Linked DNA regions of Homo sapiens. The protein of the gene in region 1 purifies or fractionates together with the protein of each later gene. This does not show direct contact. Each region holds a gene or a part of one and is shown on either strand. Other genes may lie near its edges.

Region 1 (7,535 bases):
GTAGCTGGGACCACAGGTGCCTGCCACCATGCCTGGCTAATTAATTTTTTTTTGGTAGAGATAGGGTCTCCCTATGTTGCCCAGGCTAAAGATTTTTCTTTATTTAGGTATAAAAAAATACAGTACTTGTCATGCACCAGTTTGGCCAATATATAGACATTATCTGTAGAGCAATTACTACAATTATAGAAAATAGAAGGTTACAGGAATTGTTTTTCCAACTAAAAAACCTGAATTAATATTGTTAACCTAAATAACAACCTGCTTATTATGCAAAAACCCTTATTCTATATGTCTGTGAGAGCTAGAAACTTGTAAGTATCATTAGTAAAAAAATCATTATAAGAAGCTAGTTATTGGTTAAAACAAACAAGTCAGTGTTATCTACAATCCCTTGCAGTGTGAGGGGCTTTGCCCAGAGTGGGAACCTCGGTCCATGACGAAGGGTGAGCTTGGTGTCTCCTTCCCTGCCCCTCTCTGTTGACTGATGCCACTTCTCCAAGGTGTGTTTGCAGTGAAACGTTCCAGTGGAAGATGCATGGGTGACCACAGAGGTTGGGCAGGGCAGGGCCTTGCCTTCTGCAAGGTGTGCCTGAGGGTCAGTTCCCTGAGATGTGACAACAGCGAGGTGTAAAGACACATGGCTCGGCTCCGTCATGCAGTCATGAGTGGGTTTGGACATTGTCCAGTTTTGCTAAAGGCCACATCTTGGGTTCCTCTAAACCAAGGGATAAGGAGTAGACAGAGAAAAGAAAGAGAGCATGGATTGGCGACCAGGTGAGGCAGAGAAGGGGAGACGTCTTCTGCTCCGGGAACATCTGCCCCTTCTCAGGCAAAACTGGAGGGGTGCTGAGGAGTCTCAAAGCAAGGTCTCAGCTCTTCCAGGCCTTCTCCAGAGGGGGTGGGTGTGGAGGTGGCCCTCACCCTGTGATCTGTCACTCCTGATCTCCACTGCCCCTCCAGAATGAATTCACAGTTGCTTCAAAGTTTAATAAGCCATTTCCCTGAATGTGGTTCAGTGCTCAGTACAGCACAGTTACTGGCATGGCAGGCCAGTGAGGTCACTTCAGGACCCAAGGTCAGGAGCTGCCATGGGGCCCCTTCCTCCCTCTTGACAGGCCTGGAGAGGGGTTGGGGAGTGGTGGGGCACTTGGAGTGGAGTATGGAGTTGGAGCAGGGCTAGGGCTCCCGAGAGAGGGCATGATGGTCAGTCTCCCTTGGGAATGGGCTGCAGAGAATCCTGCCCCACAAGTCAAGCTGTCCAGGCCTTTGCCTCCAGGCAGATAGGCACCAGGACCTCACCAGCCTTACCAGGGCGTTCAGGGACCCTAGAAAAAGACCCTGCAGCAGTTAAACACAGTCTGTTTTGCTTTGCAGCCTTGGGGAGCCAGAGGAAGTCTTTGAGTTAGACGGCGGTCTGTGGGTGACAGGGTTATGTGGATGTCTGAGCCCAGACAGAACACCAGCCTGGATTTGCCAGCATTTGAGAATAGTCATCACTGACATATATTCCTGGATATTTCAGGAACCTGGAGTTTGCTATCCCAAGGCTGATGAGGTCTCTGGGACCCACGAGGAAGGGGTGCTGGGCTGGGGAGTCACTGCCATTTTTGGAGGCTGTGGTGCCTGGCGTCTGACTGGCCTGGGCTGCAGGGGGTTTGGGTCCCCAGGCCCAGAGTGACCTCGGCCGCCTAATACAGCAGCTCCTCCCGGGGGTCCGAGCCGTACAGCTCAGCCAGCATCTTAAACCTGGGTCCCCAGTCGTTAAGGAAGTCGTAATCCACGTCAGAGTCGGATGAGTCGGTGCCCAGGGAGCTGAGGGACTCGGCTATGGACTCGGAGCCCTCGTAGCCGTAGATGTGCAGCGTGTCGTAGGGGGGGCCGTCGCCGTCGTGGTCCGCCTCGTCCTTCTTCACCTCGATCATGGCTGCCATCTCCCCGGGCCCTCCGTGTGCCCCAGGCGCGTGCCTCGGTGGCTTCTGCACCTGCGCATAGAGGGAAGGCCGGGCGTCCAGCGCGGGCCGCGGGGGCTTGGCCCCGCCGCGGCGCACCGAGTTGAGCACCGACACATCGTAGCTGGTGGTGTCCATCTCGCCGCCGCCCTCCTCGTCGTAGGTGACCAGCTGCTCGTGGATCTCCGGCACGCTCTTGCCGTGCGCGCGGGCCTGCTTCCGGAGCCGCCGCCGCAGGAAGATGAGCAGGGTGATCACTGCAGCCAGGGAGCCGAGCAGCAGAGTCAGACAAGGCTGGGGGCCTGGGCGGCCCCCCATGCCCCCATCCCCACTGCCCCCTGCAACCCCACCCCCACGCCCTCCCAGCATGCCCATCCCTTTGGCCCCCCCTTCCCCTGCAACCCCATCCTTTTGGCCCCCCTTCCCCTGCAACCCCATCCCCGCCGTTCCCCCATACCCCCATCCCCGCCATCCCCCTACACCCCACACCCCGTCCCTGCCGCTCCCCCGCATACTCATCCCCACCTCGCCCGACACTCCCACCGCTGCCGTTCCCCCACACCCAGGGGCAGGTGCGGATGCTCAGCCTGTGGGAATCTCTGAGGGGTGTGGCTATGTGAGGGTCTTGGATCCCTAAGGAGGGGTAGACCTTGAAGTGCAGAGAGCTTCTAAAATTAGGCTCAGGCCTTCTAGCTTTGAGTTACTGAACAAACTACTATATACATAAGTAAAGCTGGGATGCCCTGGAAGGCAGCCCTGCCCCCCAGCCTCAGTTTCCTTGTCTGTAAAATGGAAATGATGACCTCCCTGCTCTGTTTATATTTGGGAGGATGGTTGTGAGGTCAAATGCAATTCTATTTGTGGTGGGGATGCCATCATCATCATTAATTATTAATAAAGGAGAAATCTCTGCTGGAGAAGTCCCAGAAGTCGGGCATACCGAGGCCACTCTCAGGAGGGCTACAGGCAGGAGAGGCCTGGAATCTGTATTGCAGGTGCCCCGTGGCTGTATCCAGGCCTTGCCGTGAGTGCCAGGGTGATCTCTAATCACCTGAGGGCTTCCTCTGGAGGATCAGCCCCTGCTGCGTCTCATGGCGAGTGAAATGCAGGATACAGTACATCACTGTGCTCCCCCGGTGGGATGATGCTGGGGGGTGGCCCCACGCTGCCTCCCGGCAACCCTATGGGAGGAGGCTCCAGTTCCTCACGATGGGAACATTCCACCTTCGCTGGCCTCCTCCCTTCCCAGCTTCACTCCCCCTCTGCCTTAGGAGGTATCCAGGGAAATAAACCACCTCCCAAATAAACCACTTCCACCCCAATCCTCATCCCAGGGCTGCTCCCTGGGAAATCCAAACTAAGGCCTACAATGCTCCTAAAATTTCTGAGGCCCAAACAAGAAAAAAAATATGTATCAAGGCCGGAGGAATTCTATAAAAAGAAAGAAAGCACGTGGAGACAATCTAAACTAGAAGTTTTTAAACTTTCCATTTTAGAACTGGATCCTTTTTCCTTTTTCAAAAATAGGTTTTATGTAAATACATGCCCAGAACAATGCCTGGCACTCAGTAAATGCTGAAAATATCTAAGTGGAAGGAGTGACTGTTATGTATAAGTTATTTTAAAGTGATACTGGCCTGATGCGTGGGGGAGGAGTCCTGAGTCCCACCCCCTCCTCCTCCCTGGCTCATCCCCCACCGTGAGCACCCAGGTGGTTGGAGCTCACATCCTGCATCCTGCACATGAACTGGCTAAGGGCTGCATTGCAGATTGGAGGCAGGGTTGGGCCTGAACCTCTGGCCTCTACTTTTCCTGTGAAGCCTCCCCGCCTCCCAACACCTTCCATCCCCTTCCACCCACTGTGTCTTCTCCCCACCCTGCCCAGCACTGACCTGTGATGGTGAGGATGCAGAGTAAGATGGCTACCACTGCCTGGATGCTCACGCCCACCTGGGCGGCCATATCCTCGCAGAAGGTGAACTCGCCCTGCTCGTTGCACTTGCACACGGCCACGGTCAGCGTGCTGGTGCCCGTGCGACTTGGCATCCCATTGTCTGAGATGACCACGGGTAGGAAGTGGACCTTGGTATGCTCCCGGTCAAACTGCCCATACTTGACTGTGATGTTGGCCGTGTTATCTGGAAACACCAAGGCCTCGGAGTCAGGCTTTGCCATCTGCACAGATGGGGAAACCTGGCTCCTCCAGGAAGCCCTCCCTGACTGCACCAGCCTGCGTGCTCCCTGGGCTGCTTTTCTGCCCTTTGCACCCAGCGCCTCTTGTTTCAGCCATCTGAGTGCAGGTCTGTTCCGCCACAGAGGGGATATTTTGGGGCAGCTGCTTTGACCCAATCTCCAAGGATGCCTTGGTGAAAGAAGGTCAAATCCTTTGCTTTCTGTATTTGTGGGCAACTGATGCCTCTCCCCTTCCTCTTCCCTAACCCCACTCCAGTAACAGGAGGTTTTCTCTTTCAGCTCAATTAATTAATGCTCCGTTTCAAGCTTTGACAAGCAGCGGGGAAAAATAAAGTTTTAAAAAGTCTTTTAGCATTAGGCTAATTTCTAAGGCAGCTTCTGCTCTCTCTGAAAATCCATTGTTACATTGTTGAAAACAGTAAAAACAATGGACATGTCCCTTGGGGCACAGAGAAAATGATTACATATAGAATTGCGGGTTTCCCAGGCAGTTTGGAACTGGGAAATGCTTTTGTCCAAATATTGGCCCCGCCCACCTTCCCAGATCCAATCAGTGGTTTCCTGTACCCAAGAATCCCCCAGGGAGCTTTTAAAACATGCTGATTTTCAGACCCCTATGCTCACACACACTTCTTATTCAGTGGTTCTGGGCAGAGGCCAGATAATCTGCCTTTTGCAGGGTCCCAGGAGGTTGTAATGTCAACGATCAGAGAAGGATCCAGGAACTCCCTACTCCAGGATTTACTTAGCTACACAGGCTCCACACACTGGATTGAAAAACCCAGGAATCCATCTTTTCGATTTTGAATGAAAGCCAATTATATTTCATTATTCATAATTACATTTCAGCATTAAGTCTATTATATTTCAAAATAAACTATATGTCATTGACACTTATGGGAGAAACTAGAGATTTTGACATGCAGGATGTTCATGATATAAGTGAATTTGACACCAACAGACTTGCCTCCTATTGTATATGGGTGTCTTTGGGGTGGCACTGAATCTTTCTACTGTATTGCAGATCCCCACTCTGAGATGGGACTGAGGTGGACATTGGGGAGGGGGTGACATTTTTGCCACATTATTTACTTCTAATGACAACTGGGTGTTGAATGGTCTGTCATTGACTGTCAACACATCAGGGCCACCTTCTCCATCCCACAGGAGTCTCCTTAAGGACTGGTCTGTGGTTGATCCCTCAAGTCTGCCTCCAACTTTCAGGGACCCCACTCCCCAGTCTTCCTTAAATGTAGTAATGGGCTGCTGCAATACAGCCATCCTCATCCACCATAGTTTTGCCCATTAGGGACAGGCAGGAATTCCATCCCATGCTAGGTGAAGGATCACTCTATTTAAACCCAAGGGGAATTTTCTCTATTTTTTTGAGGAAATTTCAGAGGCCATGGAAGCTTGCCTACTTGTGGCTGGAATGAAGTCAACTCAGCATCATCACTTAAGTCAGCACCTACTCCTCAGAAGCTCTGATTGGCTGCTAATGCCATCACACGGGCCACCCTGCTAATCGTGAGTAATCGTTGTAGCTGAATTAAAACAAAGCTCACTGGATCCTTGGGATTTAGGATTTCACATTTCCAGTTTTGACTCTTTGGGAATGACCTCAAAGTTCCATGTTTAATGTGCAGTTTTGCTGACCCATAGAGCCTCCAGTATGGGAGGGGACTCCTTGGCTAGTTCTTGAACTGAGCTGACTGCCTGCATCCTCACATCTGTTCTGTACTCCTCGCTGGCTCCTTGCAGGCGACGTGGACTTGGGAGTTTGGATGGAGTGTCTCTGACCATTGCATAGACCAATTGTACAATGTATGTGGCAGAAATTGTACAAAATATCTAATGATTTGAAAATCCCAGTGGGAGCCTGCCCTCAATTTGTTGGCCTGGTCTTTGACCTTGGTGCCTCAAGACTCAAATAACCTCACCCCGACCCTGTTAGAGCCAACTGACTGCATTTGTTCTTTTTTTGGAGACGGGGTCTCGCTCTGTCGCCCGGGCTGGAGTGCAGTGATGTGATCATAGCTCACTGCAGCCTCAAACTCCTGGGCTCAAGCGATCTTCCTGCCTCAGCCTCCTGAGTAGCTGAGACTACAGGTGTGGGTCATCACGCCCAGCTGAACTGATTACTTTGATGCCTACCGTGATTATCCGTGAGGGTAAAGTTGTTCTCAGTATTCAAGATGAATTTGAACTTCACGTTTCGTGGTGTTATGTCCTTGTCTATTGCGGAGATCTGCAGGACCAGCTGGAGTGTGGAAGACAGGAGATGGTCAGTGATGGTGGTGGGGTGGTGGGGTGGTCTGAGGTTTAGCGATGGAGCCTTTGGGTTTAAGTCCTGACCATGGCTGTTTCCCACCTGCAACACTCACCTATTTAGTTCTTCATAAAGCCATTCTTTCTACTTCCCTGCCCCGCCAATCTACTCCCCATATATTCCCTCTGAGCCTCAGTTTCTCCATCTGTAAAATGGGCATAATGTTATTTTCCTCAAGGCTATTGTACAGGGGAACTCCTGCTGACTCTGTTGAGCAGTTCTGCCCCCCAGCCTGCCCCAGGGTGGTGCTGCCTTCCCCTCCCACCTGAACCAGACTCACCTGGCCATGGACAGCGTTCTCACACACTTTGGGCTGGTAGGGCTTGGCAAACTCCGGGGCATTGTCATTCTCATCCAAAACTTCAATGTGGACTTGCACAATGGATTCTTTTCCTGTGGGGGTTCCTGCAGGGGAGAAGACTGTCACCATTATGGGCTCAGCTGATGCTGGCCTTGGGCGGTGGAAGATGTGTGGAAGGAGGGCTGCCCTATGGAGGCCACTTTTTGCAGGAGGAGGCTGTGGAACAGAGGCCCAGGATGGTGTTCTGGATAAAAGGAGTTTGGTGGGGGGAGGTGTTAAATCTCATCCATAAGGTTTACTGAGGTATTACTTTGATTATGAGAATCAAAAAGGTAAACCACCTAAGTGCATTAAAAAAATTGTAATTAAATTCCTAAAATTAAAAATTTAATTATTTGATTAAATACATAAAACATAATAAATTAATCATAAAAGAATTGAAAAGGTAAACAACCTAAGTGAGATTGGGTCAGTAAACTAGGCTACCGGAAAAGACTGAAATGGATGGCCACTGACAATGCCTATGTCACTTACATCTTAAACATATAATTAAAAAAAATTTTAAGGCCAGGTGCTGTGGCTCACCCCTGTAATTTCATACTTTGAAAGGCCTAGAAGGGAGGATTGCTTGGGGCCCAGAGTTGGAGACAAGCCTGGGAAACATGGTGAGACCCCATCTCTACAAAAAAAATTAAGACATTTGCTGGGCAATGTGGTGCACGCCTGTAGTCCCAGCTGCTCAGGAGGCTGAGGTGGGAGG
Region 2 (7,535 bases), on another chromosome or scaffold:
TGATAGATTGCATCTTACGAGAGATCTCTGAGTGGGAACCAGAACAGTACTCATGCCCTGATAGTCCTTTTCATTGAGTAATTTTTATTTATTTATTTAAATAGGAGTGCAGTGGTGCAATCTTGGCTCACTGCAACGTTCGCCTCCCGGGTTCAAGCAATTCTCCTGCCTCAGCCTCCTGAGTAGCTGGGACTACAGGCGTGTGCCACCACACCCAGCCAATTTTTGTAGTTTTAGTAGAAATGGGGTTTCACCATGTTGGCCAGGATGGTCTCGATCTCTTGACCTCGTGATCCACCTGCCTCGGCCTCCCAAAGTACTGGGATTACGCGTGAGCTACTGCACCCGGCTGAGTGATTTTTTTTTTTTTTTTTTTAAGATAGAGAAAGTCCCTCATACTGAGGAGCCTTGCAGTTGAGAGAGAACAGAATTCCAGTTGGAGGATCAAGGAATTTGAGGGAGGCAGCATGCTTGCAGTGTTCCTAGGATTTTTACAGGAACTACAATAGAAAGTTAGGGATGAAATTATATTGAAAGGAGAAAGCTGGACTGCTCAGGTTTGGAGGTCATGGGGAATTCCAGGATTCAGTATGTGGTTGCTCTCTTATTTTTAACTTCTGCTTAGCAGTAAAACCACACCCTTCCTTCTTCCTGAAAGTAATGTTTAACTTCCTCTCCCTGCAGCATTACACTCTATGTAATGGGAGTGGGGTGGAGGAAGAGTCTCCCAAGGTGGTTGGATCTCACTATTCTACTGGAAGAGGAGCAGGCAAATATATTTTTATGTGGTATAATGTCATTAGATTATTTCCTGCTGCTTAAGACAGAGCAACTTCTGGATGACATTTTGGAATGTATTCTGTGGCTCTAATAATTGTTGGTAAAGATATTGAGCCTTCTGTTTTCTTGAGGGGAGTTGGGGTGCTTGTTTTTGTACTTGGAAAGGGAGACTCGTATCTCTTGCTTTTTTCTTTAATTAAATTTCTGTTTTTTACATTAGGACATGATAGCCATCTTGCTTCTTTCTTTAAAAAGCTGCCTGGAATGGGAGTTTCCAGTGGTAGTACTGCATGAAGATTCATGAGACTATAAAGCTCTTTGGAAACCCCCCAACTTAGCCCTTCCAACTTTCCTTACATTTTTATGGCTTTCCAAAAAGGTTGCATGTAAGGGAAATTATCTAGGTCTGTGCTGTTTATTCAGCAAATAGTTTTTGAGCACCTGTTATGTGCCAGGCACTGTTCAAGGCACTAGACTAAACTAAACTTATCCCAAAAAACCCTCTGCCCTCGTGGAGTTTACGTTCTTATGTTCCAGAGACCCTGTCTGCCAGAGTTCCAGGCCTGATTTTCAATTTTGAGGAAAGTGCTAAGACTAAAGAGTGAATGGTTCTTTTATGAGTACTGACACAAGGACTCCAGGCCACACATATCTTCTTGAAAGCCCTTTTCCTGTTTGAAAAAAAGATCGTTTGTATTTGATAGAGCAAAAGAAGGCCACAAAATGAATTGTCTTCTTGTGGGCTGTGTTTCAGAACGGCCGGTTTGTGGGCGATGCTGACCTTGAAAGACAGAAATTTTCAGATTTGAAACTCAACGGACCCCAGGTAATTCTTTGGCTCAAGACCTGGGTTGCTTCATTCATATTTTCTTATTTCCCCAGCCTATAAGAGCATATTTGTGTCTTGTAAGGTGCCTGGCACATTGTACATACTCGTCAATTAGTTTCTTTTATTTACGAAAACAAAGAAGTGGAGCTCCAAAGTATATATGCAGTTTTGTTTTGGAATGAATTTTAATGACCATTGATCTTTATGACTATTCCTCCTCCCCACTGCCACCCCATTTGATCCCTAAGTACTGCGTTTCTTTTCTAGAGACAGTAGGCTTCTACTTTGCAGCAAAAAACCCTACCTAAAATCTGGCTGGTCTTGAGCCTTTTAGACGGTATCTGAAGAGTAACATAAAGCCAGTCAAAAGATGGCTCTTACTGGGATTTTCAGGTTTGTCTTAAAAGTTCTTTATTTTTGGCCAGGCATGGTGGCTCATGCCTGTAATCCCAGCACTTTGGGAGGCTGAGGTGGGCAGATCACCTCAGGTCGGGAGTTGGAGACCAGCCTGACCAACATGGAGAAACCCCGTCTCTACTGAAAATACAAAATTAGTCAGGCGTGGTGGCACATGCCTGTAATCCCAGCTACTCGGGAGGCTGAGGCAGGAGAATTGCTTGAAACCAGGTGGCGGAGATTGTGGTGAGCTGAGATCATGCCATTGTACTCCAGCCTGGGCAACAAGAGCAAAACTCTGTCTCAAAAAAAAAAAAAAAGTTCTTTATTTTAGACTGGGCACGGTGTCTCATGCCTGTAATCCAACACTTTGGGAGGCCAAGGCAGAGCAAAACTCCGTCTCAAAAAAAAAAAAAAAACAAAGTTCTTTATTTTGGCCAGGCGTGGTTTGCTCATTCCTGTAATTCCAGCACTTTGGGAGGCTGAGGCTGGAGGATTGCTTGAGCCCAGGAGTTCAAGACCAGCCTGGGCAACATAGACCCTGTCTCTACAAAAAAAATAAAATTAGCCAGGCATGGTGGCGTGAGCCTGTAGTTCTAGCTACTCAGGAGGCTGAAATGGCAAGATTGCTTGAGCCTGGGAGGTTGGGGCTCCAGTGAGCTATGATCATGCCACTGCACTCTAGCTTGGGTGATAGAGTGAGACCCTATCTCAAGTAAATAAATACAAGTTATTTATTTATTGGGTGAGCTGCTCTTTTGAGGGATCACTCAGATATAGATGAAACTGCATTTAACACAGTTCATGTTCACTTAGATGACCACAGCTGGGAAGTTAAATCTACTGTCTGTCACTTGGATGTTGATGTGGCTATAGTTAGTTCATGTTTGTTAAATGACTACAACTGGGAAATTATGTCTACTGTCCTTTTGTACAAGTTCAAAAGATGACAGCCACCCATCTAAAAATCCTGAGGCCTATAGAAGATGCATGAGGAGTCCCTGTCTCCAGGTTTACCACTTATGCTTCTTATTAGGATGGCTTGTTATACATAGCACTTAATAGTAGTTTCTTCTCTTTTCTCTTTTGCATATAGGATCACAGTCACCTTCTATATAGCACCATCCCCAGGATGCAGGAGCCGGGGCAGATTGTGGAGACCTACACGGAGGAGGATCCTGAGGGAGCCATGTCTGTAGTCTCTGTGGAGACCTCAGATGATGGGACCACTCGGCGCACAGAGACCACGGTAAACTAAGACGTGTGTAAGATCTGGAAGTGATAAGAGGTCTTTTCTTCTCTATTAGGGGAGGGGTTAAGCACTTAATTAAGATGGAGGACTGATATGCCATTATTGATCTGATTGCATGAAGTGATCTCTGGCCAGATAGAAAGGATGAAGAGATGGGAAAATCTTATGGGATAGGGAAGACAGAAGGTATATCAGGGTCTATAGTAGCTTCCCTTATAAGCATAGTTACTGTCAGGGCAATTTTCCTGCTTGGGGACTTCCTATAGGATGGAAAGAAAGATAGATGGTAGGCTTTAAGGCATTCCTAGGTAAAGTGACCTAGGGATATAAAGATTTGTTTCTTTTGGAGTGGTATAGAATTTAATTGTTCATGGCTGGGCGCGGTGGGTCACGCTTGTAATCCCAGCCCTGTGGGAGGCTGAGGTGGGCGGATCACGAGGTCAGGAGTTTGAGACCAGTCTGGGCAACATAGTGAAACCCCGTCTCTACTAAAAATACAAAAAATTAGCCAGGTGTGGTGGTGTGTGCCTGTAATACCAGCTACTCGGGAGGCTGAGGCAGGAGAATTGCGTGAACCTGGGAGGCAGAGGTTGCAGGTGAGCCGAGATCACGCCATTGCACTCCAGCCAGGGCAACAGTGCAAGACTCCATCTCAAAAAAAAAAAAAGAATTTAATTGCTCACTTCCTTAATTAGTTTTTCTTTTTCTTGTTTCCTACTTGCAGGTCAAGAAAGTAGTGAAGACTGTGACAACACGGACAGTACAGCCAGTCGCTATGGGACCAGACGGGTTGCCTGTGGATGCTTCATCAGTTTCTAACAACTATATCCAGACTTTGGGTCGTGATTTCCGCAAGAATGGCAATGGGGGACCTGGTCCCTATGTGGGGCAAGCTGGCACTGCTACCCTTCCTAGGAACTTCCACTACCCTCCTGATGGTTATAGTCGCCACTATGAAGATGGTTATCCAGGTGGCAGTGATAACTATGGCAGTCTGTCCCGGGTGACCCGCATTGAGGAGCGGTATAGGCCCAGCATGGAAGGCTACCGGGCACCTAGTAGACAGGATGTGTATGGGCCCCAACCCCAGGTTCGGGTAGGTGGGAGCAGCGTGGATCTGCATCGCTTTCATCCAGAGCCTTATGGGCTAGAGGATGACCAGCGTAGTATGGGCTATGATGACCTGGATTATGGTATGATGTCTGATTATGGCACTGCCCGTCGGACTGGGACACCCTCTGACCCTCGTCGGCGCCTCAGGTAGGCAAGAATAGGGGAAGAGAAAAGGGTCTTTCCAAGACCAGGGACAAGGGGTAGCTTTTCCTTCAACTTCTAGGGGCTTTTTGGGATCAGAGATACTCGTGGCCTCCTCCCCTCTGCTTTTTTTTGGGGTGAAAAGCTACCCTGTTTTTCCCTTTTCTGACTTGGCTTAGTATTGACTTGCTATATATATATAATATAAATATATATATAATTTTTTAAATGAAAATAATATAATTTTATTTTTTATTTTTTTGAGACAGAGTCTTGCTCTTTCACCCATGCTGGAGTACAGGGGTGCCATCTTGGCTCACTGCCACCTCCGCCTCCTGGGTTCAAGTGATTCTCATGCCTCAGCCTCCCTAGTAGTTGGGACTACAGGCAAGCACCATCACGCCTGGCTAATTTTTATATTTTTAGTAGAGATGGGGTTTCACCATGTTGGCCAGGCTGGTCTCAAACTCCCGACCTCTGGTGATCCACCCGCCTTGGCCTCCAAAAGTGCTGGGATTACAGGCGTGAGCCACCGCGCCTGGTCCACAAGTTGTTTTCTATAATTGAATATATGGGCCAGGCGCGGTGGCTCACGCCTGTAATCCCAGCGCTTTTGGAGACTGAGGTGGGTGGATCACCTGAGGTCCGGAGTTCAAGACCAGCCTGACCAACATGGAGAAACCCCGCCTCTACTAAAAATACAAAATTAGCTGGGCGTAGTGGTGCATGCCTGTAATCTCAGCTACTCGGGAGGCTGAGGCAGGAGAATCATATGAACCCGGGAGGCAGAGGTTGTGGTGAGCCAAGATCATGCCATTGCACTCCAGCCTGGGCAACAAGAGCGAAACTCCACCTCAAAAAAAAAAAAAAAAAAAAACAACTTGTGATTGTTATTAGTCTGTGTCCTGAAGAATGAACTTTGCTTCTGCTTCTATGCTGAAGTTTTTGCTGTTTCTGGCTAAGATGTGACCCCCTTTTGGTGTGTTAGGCAGAGGATTCTGATGTCTGGGGCCATGGAATTCTTGCTCACTTCTTCCTGGGAATTTCTTTAGTTTCTGATTTGGTATTAAGAACAGAGTCCATTGGGCACGGTGTCTCACGCTTGTAATCCCAGCACTTTGGGAGGCCGAGTTGGGCGGATCACGAGGTCAGGAGATCGAGATCATCCTGGCTAACACGGTGAAACCCTGTCTCTACTAAAAATACAAAAATTAGCCGGGTGTTGTGGCTCGTGCCTGTAGTCTCAGCTACTCAGGAGGCTGAGGCAGGAGAATCACTTGAACCCGGGTGGCAGAGGCTGTAGTGAGCCGAGATCCCGCCACTGCACTCCAGCCTGGGTGACATAGTGAGACTGTCTCAAAAAAAAAAAAAAAAAAGCCAAAAAAACCCCAAAACAAAACATAGTTGAGGGTTTTAGGAATTCAGAACCAAAAGAGACAGTTGAGGACGTGTATAAGAACTTTCTTGTGTTTTTAATCCCAAAGTTAAAAACAAACTTTGACCTCACAAGGGCCTTGACATTCTATGCTTAGGGTCTTATTATTTGATTGTAAAGTGAAATTGTGGTGGCATCCTTGGGTGGGGGTCGGGGGATACATTAGCAACACTCTGAAAGGTCACTAAGCAGCTGCCTACTCTGACTTTACTACTTGTTCCTGGAGATTCTTTGGTGATGTGAAAAAAGGAGTGATTGATGTTTGGACTGGTACATGGTTTGCCTTGTTGCATTGAGAGAATGCTTTAGAATGGGGTCGACAGACCCCTGAAAATGACCACGTAGAACTATTTTAGGCTTTGCAGGCCATGTATCATCTTTGTCGTATGTTGTTCTTTTTTTCAAACAATCTTTTAAAAATAGCATTATGGGGATGTACAAAAACAGGTTTGGCCCATGGGCTGCCAATGCTGCTTCAGAATAAATTAGAAACAGTGTTTTCCAGGTAAAGAGAAATGATAAGAAACAAGGGATGATTTATGGTTGTCTTGATGGTAAGGATATCCTAGCAGCTGTTGCTGAATTTCTCTATATGGGGTCATGACCTTTTAAAGCAAATGCCTTGGTGCTCATTTTCCTCATATATTAGGTAGCTTTGGTTAAGAGTGAACAGGGCTGGGCCCAGGGGTAGAGGCCCCATTATCTAAGACTGAGTCACTCACCTTTCAGGTGTCTTGGATAGCTAATCCAACTCCCATGTGACTCATTTTTATTCCTACAGGAGCACCAGACCTCGGCTGGTGCAACCTAGAGCAGTGGTAGATAACAGCCTTCATTGAAGCAGTCTGTCCAGGGTGTTGGCTCTACTGCAAGTCTGCTTTTTCTGACTTCCTCATTAGTAAAGAGTGATTGGACCCAGATGGGTGTGGGTGGCCAGGTCATTCTCTGCCATCCCTAGTTGTGCTAGTTCACATAGAGTTTTGGGCCTGGTTCTTGGGTTTGTTCCAGGGTAGCACTGGACTTGGAAACCTGCTTGACTAGCAAGCATATTTGCTGCTTCCTGTTCCAGGCTAGAAGAGTAATACAAGGTCAAACTTAAACAGTGAGGCAGTGATTAGTGGAAAAAGCACTGAACCCTGAGACCTTGGTTCTAGTTGTGCCTTTGCCACTAGCTAAGTAGCCTCAAGCAAGTCATTTGGTCTTCCCAGGCACAGCTTTGTTTCTTGTAAAACAAAGGAAAGAATGTCCAATCCACTGCCTTTGTATAGAAAAGGATATAGGATAGAGTTATCTGGAAATTTTGGTTATGGTAATTGTTCTTATAATTTTGTATATTAATAATAGAGGTTAAACATGTTCAATACAGAGCCTGAAAAACCCAGAAAAGCATTACCATCTATTGATAAAGAACCACTGTTAACATTTTGGTGCATATCCTTTGAGTTTTTTTAATTATACATGTAACTATATCCTATTTTCCCTCTACTAAAATGGAATCTTAACATACTGCTTAATAGCCTACTTTTAAGCTATCTAAGCTATTCATTTTGTTTCCGTGTTTTTTTTTTTTTTTTTTTTTTTTTTGAGAT
Region 3 (7,535 bases), on another chromosome or scaffold:
TGACAGTCAGCCCTGCTCTCCCACCCCAAGTTTGCTCCCCCAGCTTGGCTTTTTGGCATCTCTGCCTGGGGCCACGCCCTGGCAGGTGCACTGCTGTGTGGAGAAGTAAGCTCCAGGTCTTGGAGACTGGTCAGAGGCTGTGGCACCAAGGGAAAGGGCATTTTGTGGTGGCCAAGGGCTTGCTGCCTGGTGAGAGATGCCAGCCTGGCTTGTCCTGGACTCTACCTGGGAGGGCCATAATGGGGATGGAGAAGATTCATTCATTCATCCATCGGACAGCAGCCACCTCCTGCCCTCTGGGAGCCTGGCCTGCAGGTGTGGGATCCAGGTGTGCAATCTCACCTTAACTCATTCTCTGTGTGTGCTAGCCAGGCCTTGGACAGGGGAGGGGCCTGCCCCTGCAGTCTGTTCTTCAGGACACAGACCGTGGTGCATCTGTGAAGTCCGGTGGTTTGGGTAGATAAGTAATATGGGACCAGGGCCCAGCCACCTGTGCCCCAGCATCCCTCTGTGTGTTGGTCCAATCTTGCTTTTCTGCTCCCTGTGTTCCTTGCATTTTGCCACAAAAGTGAGACTGATGCTACCCAGCACGTCCCACGACCCCAGCCCCCTCTGTCCTTCTCACCTCCTTGTGAAGAAGCTGAGCCGAAGGTGCGTGATGGGGCCCAGAGCCCCTATGCTGGGCTCAGCCCTGTGTTCCCGGGACCCTCTTGTGAGCAGGGGTAGGTGGTCTACCTCCCTGGTCACTCTGGCCCCTCCCACAAGCCCAAGGGAGCTCATGGGAAACCCCAGGCCTGGGCAGCAGCCTGTTTCTGGGCCAGTCCTGGGGGCCCCAGACCTGGTGCACCAGAGATTGAAGAGCCAAGGGAGGGATGAGTGCTGGGAGGCCGGGCGGGGTGCAAGAGGAGCAAGGATGGGGCCCCAGCTGGGGAGGGGGTGATGAGAGACGACTGACAGGATGCAGCATGTGGGATTGGGCTGGAGGTGGGGTGTTCAGGGTAGAGCCCATGTCTAGGGTACAGAGGGGAGCAGCCCAGAGTTGGGTCTGAGGCAGAGGCTGTGTGGGGCTGCAGGGCCAGGGTCCCTGAGAGTGGGCCAGCCTGGGCAGGTGCACGTCAGACATGGACACTGGGGCCAGACAGGGATCCAGGGACTGCAGCCAACTCCTGTTGAGAGTCAGCCCACCATTCCACAGCCCCACCCTAAAGATGTTGCAGAGAGCTGAGCCACCAGCTGGCTATGGGCCTCTCACTACTCTACACCTCAGTTTCTCCATCTGCCAGCCAGCTCTGAGACTCCCAGAGTGGATGCTGGGCAGATGATTGGCAGAGTTGGTGGCCCCTGTCCCTGTGTGTTGAGACTCTGTGAGGCCCTGCATGGATAAGGGTCTCCGATACACGGTGGAGGACGGGAGGATGTGTGCTCACGAGTGTGCCTCTGGGAACAGTGGGCGCCGTGCCCTTGGGGTGCTGTTAGAGCACACGGGTTGATGTGCTCGGCCTGTGCCGGGCTGGGTACTTGCACACGTGTATGTACATGCATGTGTCCCTGTCTGAGGGGTCATGTATATGCATGTGTGTGTGCCTGGGCATGTGTAGCAGGGGCCGGGCTTTCCTGTGATCACTGGCTGACTCATGCACCTGCCACCCGGGTGAAGTCATCCCTCGTTTTTAGCTCCCTGAGGTCATTTGCCAGCAGGGACTCTTGGGGCCTCTGGATCCTACTGCGGGGCTGCTAGGCCGGGGCTGATGGGTGGTGCCGCAGGGTTGCCAGGTCTTGCTGCGGGGGCGTGGCTCTCCTGGACCACCCCAGCTCTGCCTGTCAGACCCTCACCACAGCCTTGGTGGGAGGGATAAGCTGGGCCACAGAGTGGCATCGGGGTCCTGAGATGTCCTCCCCTTTTCCTCTCCCGCTTACCCCCACTGCCTAGCTAGGGAAGAGGGGGTTTTTCTCTGAGTTTTTAATAGATGTAAATATATACATATATGAGGGGCTACATCCCACTGGCAGAGTCCTGGGTAACGTTTCCTCAGTCTTGCTTTATACCCTCCTCACTCTGTCGCCAGAACTGCAGCCCCTCAGTGCCTGGGCCCCTGCTTGAACTCAGATGAGCCCCGCCCAGGGCCCAGCAGAGAGAGCTCAGGGCCTGACACACATTTGCCAGATACAGATGGGGCAGCCCAGCCCCAGCAGTGATGGGCCACACAAGCCTTCTCCTGCTTCAGAGCAGTCCCAGCTCCCCAGTGCCTTTGGAGAAGAGCCCAGCCTGCCCTGCCTGGCAGCGTGCCAGTTGTCCCCACTCTAGGCCTCAGTCTATTTCTTTTTCCCAGGGAACAGGTCCCCTTTTCCTAGCCAGGTCCACAGCAGGCATTCCACCTACATCTCAAGACTGAGGGCGAGATGAGGCCCAAAGCCTTCCTTGCCAGATTGCCTTCTCTGGGGGTGCTTGAAATCCCACTTGGACTGTGAAGTTCTAGGTAAATCCTCTTCCCCCTGCCAGGCCTCAGTTTCCCCATCTATAAAGTTATCTGTCATCCTCCAAGACCCTGCCTGTGGGAGAGGGGGAGGTGCCTTCTGTGGCCACTTCTTTCCTCTGTCAGCCTGAGGGATACACCTGTCCTAACATGTTGGTGCAGGCCCCTTCCTGGACACCTGCACTGCATGCATTTGGGGGTCAAGTATTCCCCCAGGATAGGACCCTGACCTGGGGAGGCTTCCCAGCCCACGAGCCTTGGCAGGCAGGTCCTGAGGGCAGCGCTGAGCATCTAACCTGGCTCACCTCCCAGGCCCAAGAATGGGCAGAGTCTGCCTCTGGAGCCTGGCAGAGCTTAGTGTCTGTGCAGGCCCCAGGGGGCCCAGGCAAGGGACCCATTGTGCAGGGACCAGGGGCCTGGGCCACAAAGCAGGACCTGTCCTCCTGCTGACCCTGCCCTGGCTGCCTGGGAATGTGCTCCGCCTGACCCACCCACCAGGGCTTGGGTTTCAGCTCCTGCCCATCCTGGCTAGATGCCGATCCCCGGATGTTGGTGCCATGTGGCCCTGGGGCCAGGCACCTGTGCAGTCAGAGGCCCGGGGCAGGCTGTGAGTCTTAGGTCCTCAAGCCACTCAGCGCGGCAGGGGTTGGGCCTGGCTCTGATGTGGGCCAGCCTATCCTCTTTGAGCCTCAGTTTCCCCACTGGCAAGTCCAGTCAGTAGGCATGTGGATAGAAAAGTCTCAGTCCAGAGTTGTCTTGCCTAGAATTCCAGTGTCGTCACCCCATGCAGAATGGTGGCAAGGGCACCCATAGGCTCAAATCTACTGTGTCTGGTCTCTGATATGATGCCCAGAGTCTCAGTCACTGGGGGCGCCAGCCACTGGCCCGAGGTAGGGCAAACCTGTGCCTACACAACACTCAAGAATGTCTGGGCTGGAAGGAATAAGGACATACTGGTGCTGCAGGTGCATGGGGTGTTCTGGGAACTGCGTATTTCTGTCCCTTGAGGGCGTCTGGCTGGCGTTGGTGGCGGGAACCTTAGTGTGGCCACAGGAGTCAGTAGGCAGTGCTGAAACAGCCCCCACAAGGCTTCTATACTCAAGGTGTCTGGGGCAGGTGAGGGAGGAGGCCCCAGGACACCATGATGTCCCAGCTAGGGGTGGTGGTTGACATCAGGAAGGCATGCTGCAGGTCTCACTGGCACCTCCTGGGGCCTGGAGGAGCCTGTGGCAGCCAGGCCATGCAGCTTGGGGAGGGCCCTGAAGACTTCACCCCCCAGGGTCTATGTCCTTATCTGCCAACTCAGCCTGAGGAGACCTGAGATGGGGGTCCAGCCCCAGGGTCCCCCCAGGATGGGGTGCCGGGGCAGGGTTAGCACCTCGATGTTCAGAGGGCAAGAACTTATTGCTGTCCTTGTCAGCTTGGGCCGAAACAGGCCTTGGGGTGGGTGGGTTCAGGACCAGGAGGAAGGCACCCTGGTGTGCTGGCCAGCATGAGCTGAGGCAGAGCTGCTGTGTGTGGAGACCTGCACTCCAGGGGTGACTGAGCAGCAGGCCTGCCCACCAATGTCCCTCCTTGCCCCAGGAGCAGAGCCCAGGCAGCCAGGCCTCACTGGCCACGATGCCGGAGGCACCTGATGTGCTGGAGGAGACCGTGACGGTGGAGGAGGACCCCGGCACACCCACTTCCCATGTGTCTATTGTCACATCCGAAGATGGCACAACCCGGCGCACCGAGACCAAGGTATGGCCAGGCCCAGGCAGTGGGTGGGTGAGCAGGGCCAGGCTGCTGCAGCTGTCCCACCTGCAGAGTGGACATGGAAGCTTGCCACGTGGGGCCTCTCATTGCTCGAGTGGGAAATTAAGGCCAGCCAGACCCCAGCAAAGCAGTTTCTAGGCCTCTCGTGCTACCCCACCTACCTGCCTATCCATCCACCAGGTCACCAAGACTGTCAAGACGGTGACCACTCGGACAGTACGCCAGGTGCCCGTGGGCCCAGATGGACTCCCCCTGCTGGATGGCGGCCCCCCACTAGGCCCTTTTGCAGATGGTGCCCTGGACCGGCATTTCCTGCTGCGTGGTGGTGGCCCAGTGGCCACACTCTCTCGAGCCTACCTCAGCAGTGGGGGTGGCTTTCCCGAAGGCCCCGAGCCCCGGGACAGCCCCAGCTATGGCAGCCTGTCCCGAGGGCTGGGCATGCGGCCCCCACGTGCTGGCCCCCTTGGCCCAGGCCCTGGTGATGGCTGCTTCACACTGCCTGGCCACCGGGAAGCCTTCCCGGTGGGTCCTGAGCCTGGGCCACCAGGTGGCCGCTCCCTGCCCGAGCGCTTCCAGGCAGAGCCGTATGGCTTGGAGGATGACACGCGCAGCCTGGCCGCTGATGACGAGGGTGGCCCTGAGCTGGAGCCTGACTATGGCACGGCCACAAGGAGGAGGCCTGAGTGTGGGCGGGGCCTTCATACCAGGTGAGCTGCACCCCGTCCCCTGTGGCTACCTCCTCTGGGAAGTCTGCCCTCCACCCCCCAACTACAGAGTGCCCCACTTGTCAAGTGGCGCAGTTGAGTTAGTCATGCATGTTAGTTTGAATTGGCCTTGGCTCTCGTCAGGGACAGAAGAAAGGTGGACCCTGGGGTGGTAGGAGTTCGGCTGGGCACTGTCCTGCAGGCCCAGGGCCCAGGAAAGCTGGGAAGAGTGCCGGCCACTGGCCTTGCTCCAGCCACACTCTGGGTAACCAGAACCCAGAGCCCTGGCCCTTGTCACAGCCCCTGGTTCTGTCCCCATTGCCCTCAGTTTCTGCATCTCTGGAGTGGGGATGTGACCACAGCCCGGGTCAGGATTTTGTTGTGTGACCCTGGCCAAGTCACCTGACCGTCACTCCTAGCCTCAGGGCAGGCGGTTTGATGACAGCAACCCACAGGGCTACTGAGAGCTAAGGAGATCTTGTGCCCCAAGGGGCTGGTGGCCTGAATACTCCTCAGGTGGTCCTACTGGGATGGCTTCATGCGGAGAGGGCCATTTACTCCCCCTACATCCTGGCACAGCCAGAGATGGGCCTCATGGAAGATGGGGTGGTTTTGTGGAAGGGAGGTGAGACGGTCTCTCCAGCAGCCATAGCAGATGTCTCACAGAAACTTGTTTTGCTCGGGATTGGGAAACTGCCCGGTGACAGCAGTGAGTGAGTTTGCTGTCCTGGGAGGGTTGCCTGGGTCCTGGTAGCCGCTGGCTGGGGTTTGGCATTTGGCTCTGAATTGGTTCTCACTGGGCTGGTGCATGACTCTCTGTGTCCCCACCATGCTCCGGGCCAAGATACAGGTGCTCTCAGCCCAGCGCTGCTGGGTGAGTTTGCAGTCCTGAAGAAGGTGTGATGGGGCAGCTCAGAGGCAGGGCTGGCGGCTGCTGTGACGATGTCCACGCGCCCCACTTGCCTGTGCAGGGCCTACGAGGACACAGCAGATGATGGCGGCGAGCTGGCGGACGAGCGGCCTGCGTTCCCAATGGTGACGGCGCCCCTGGCCCAGCCTGAACGGGGCAGCATGGGCAGCCTGGACCGGCTGGTGCGGCGCTCGCCCTCAGTGGATAGCGCCCGCAAGGAGCCGCGCTGGCGGGACCCTGAGCTGCCTGAGGTGCTGGCCATGCTGCGGCACCCCGTGGACCCCGTGAAGGCCAATGCGGCCGCCTACCTGCAGCATCTGTGCTTTGAGAACGAGGGTGTCAAGCGGCGTGTACGGCAGTTGCGGGGGCTGCCGCTGCTTGTGGCACTGCTGGACCACCCGCGGGCTGAGGTGCGGCGCCGGGCCTGTGGGGCACTGCGCAACCTCTCCTATGGCCGCGACACTGACAACAAGGCCGCCATCCGGGACTGCGGTGGTGTGCCTGCCCTGGTGCGCCTGCTGAGGGCTGCCCGGGACAACGAGGTCCGTGAGCTTGTCACTGGTGAGTGGGACCTGGCCATGCTCACATCCCCTGGGAAGAGAAGAGTGTGAGGCTCAACCCGGGAGGAACGAGGCCACTCGGCCTGCGACCGCCTGGGAAAGCACCCGGTAGGCAGGAGTGCAGCTGCTGAGACGCTTGCCCCAGGAGCCAGGCATCAGGCCCAGACACTGTGACAGGTTCCCCAGTCTCTACCATAGCAGGGAGGCTGACGCTGCGCCCCTCGGGCATGTCCCCTCACCTCCTGCCTTCACACCTCCTGCCCCCACAGAAACTCTCCTGGGACCCACCTCCTTGGTTCCCACCCCAACCGTGCAGTGGTGGGGCTTGTGCCTTGTGAGAGCTGAGGGACAGGTAGGGTCACCGTGTCTCTGTGAGGCCCTGTGGCCTCAGGAGTGTTAGTGCCACCTGCCACATGGCAGGGAATGGGTGGGACGGGACAGCACTGCCACACCCTCCTCTGCACCTCCTCCCCTTTGGGGCTCCTTCCTAGCTGGAAACCAGTACTGGGTGTCCCCCGGAACCACTCACGGCTTTTGTTACTTCCTACTGTTCTGCATGAGCTGGGACATGAGGAGAGTGGGACAGGTCCTGAGCGTGGCCACCTGGGGAGGTAGGCAGGCGGTGCATATGGTCAGCACAGATTGGCCAATCGCACCCCACAGGCACCCTGTGGAACCTGTCATCCTATGAGCCCCTGAAGATGGTCATCATTGACCATGGCCTGCAGACGCTGACCCACGAGGTGATCGTGCCCCACTCAGGATGGGAGCGTGAGCCCAACGAGGACTCCAAGCCACGGGACGCCGAGTGGACAACTGTCTTCAAGAACACGTCGGGCTGCCTGAGGTGTGGACCAGACCTGGTGCTAAAGCCCACATGCACACCAGGCCCCGTCCTCGTGGTCCCAGATAGTGTGGAAGATGGCGGCGAGCTTAGGAGCGCCAGAGCTTAGGAGCTTCAGAGCTGTGGCACAAGTCCTGTGGATGAGAAGTGGGGCCTGATGGAGCTGTCCTCACCCCCAAGTGGTGTCCCAGTCTTCCCAGGGGCACCCTCTGGAGGGGTCTCTGTGGTACCGTAGCCCTGCCCAGCTCTCACCTACCTTCCCATCACTTGACAGCCAGAGGGGGA

The links.
Region 2: the proteins of CDH5 (region 1) and CTNND1 purify together in Homo sapiens (affinity purification with western blotting; 4 studies listed by BioGRID and IntAct, with this or other methods). This does not show direct contact.
Region 3: the proteins of CDH5 (region 1) and ARVCF purify together in Homo sapiens (affinity purification with mass spectrometry; 2 studies listed by BioGRID and IntAct, with this or other methods). This does not show direct contact.

What each region holds. Positions count from the first base shown.
Region 1 is NC_000016.10:66,397,326-66,404,860, reverse strand, and holds the end of CDH5 (cadherin-5 preproprotein), read right to left. Parts: intron 6,880-7,535; coding exon 6,755-6,879; intron 6,406-6,754; coding exon 6,300-6,405; intron 4,091-6,299; coding exon 3,845-4,090; intron 2,210-3,844; coding exon 1,692-2,209; 3' UTR 77-1,691; downstream 1-76. UniProt on the Homo sapiens protein: Cadherins are calcium-dependent cell adhesion proteins. They preferentially interact with themselves in a homophilic manner in connecting cells; cadherins may thus contribute to the sorting of heterogeneous cell types.
Region 2 is NC_000011.10:57,792,476-57,800,010, forward strand, and holds part of CTNND1 (catenin delta-1), read left to right. Parts: intron 1-1,534; coding exon 1,535-1,606; intron 1,607-3,101; coding exon 3,102-3,254; intron 3,255-3,981; coding exon 3,982-4,517; intron 4,518-7,535. UniProt on the Homo sapiens protein: Key regulator of cell-cell adhesion that associates with and regulates the cell adhesion properties of both C-, E- and N-cadherins, being critical for their surface stability.
Region 3 is NC_000022.11:19,978,615-19,986,149, reverse strand, and holds part of ARVCF (splicing regulator ARVCF), read left to right. Parts: exon of another isoform or gene 1-2,477; intron 2,478-4,058; coding exon 4,059-4,217; intron 4,218-4,412; coding exon 4,413-4,939; intron 4,940-5,907; coding exon 5,908-6,407; intron 6,408-6,457; exon of another isoform or gene 6,458-6,758; intron 6,759-7,069; coding exon 7,070-7,253; intron 7,254-7,535. UniProt on the Homo sapiens protein: Contributes to the regulation of alternative splicing of pre-mRNAs.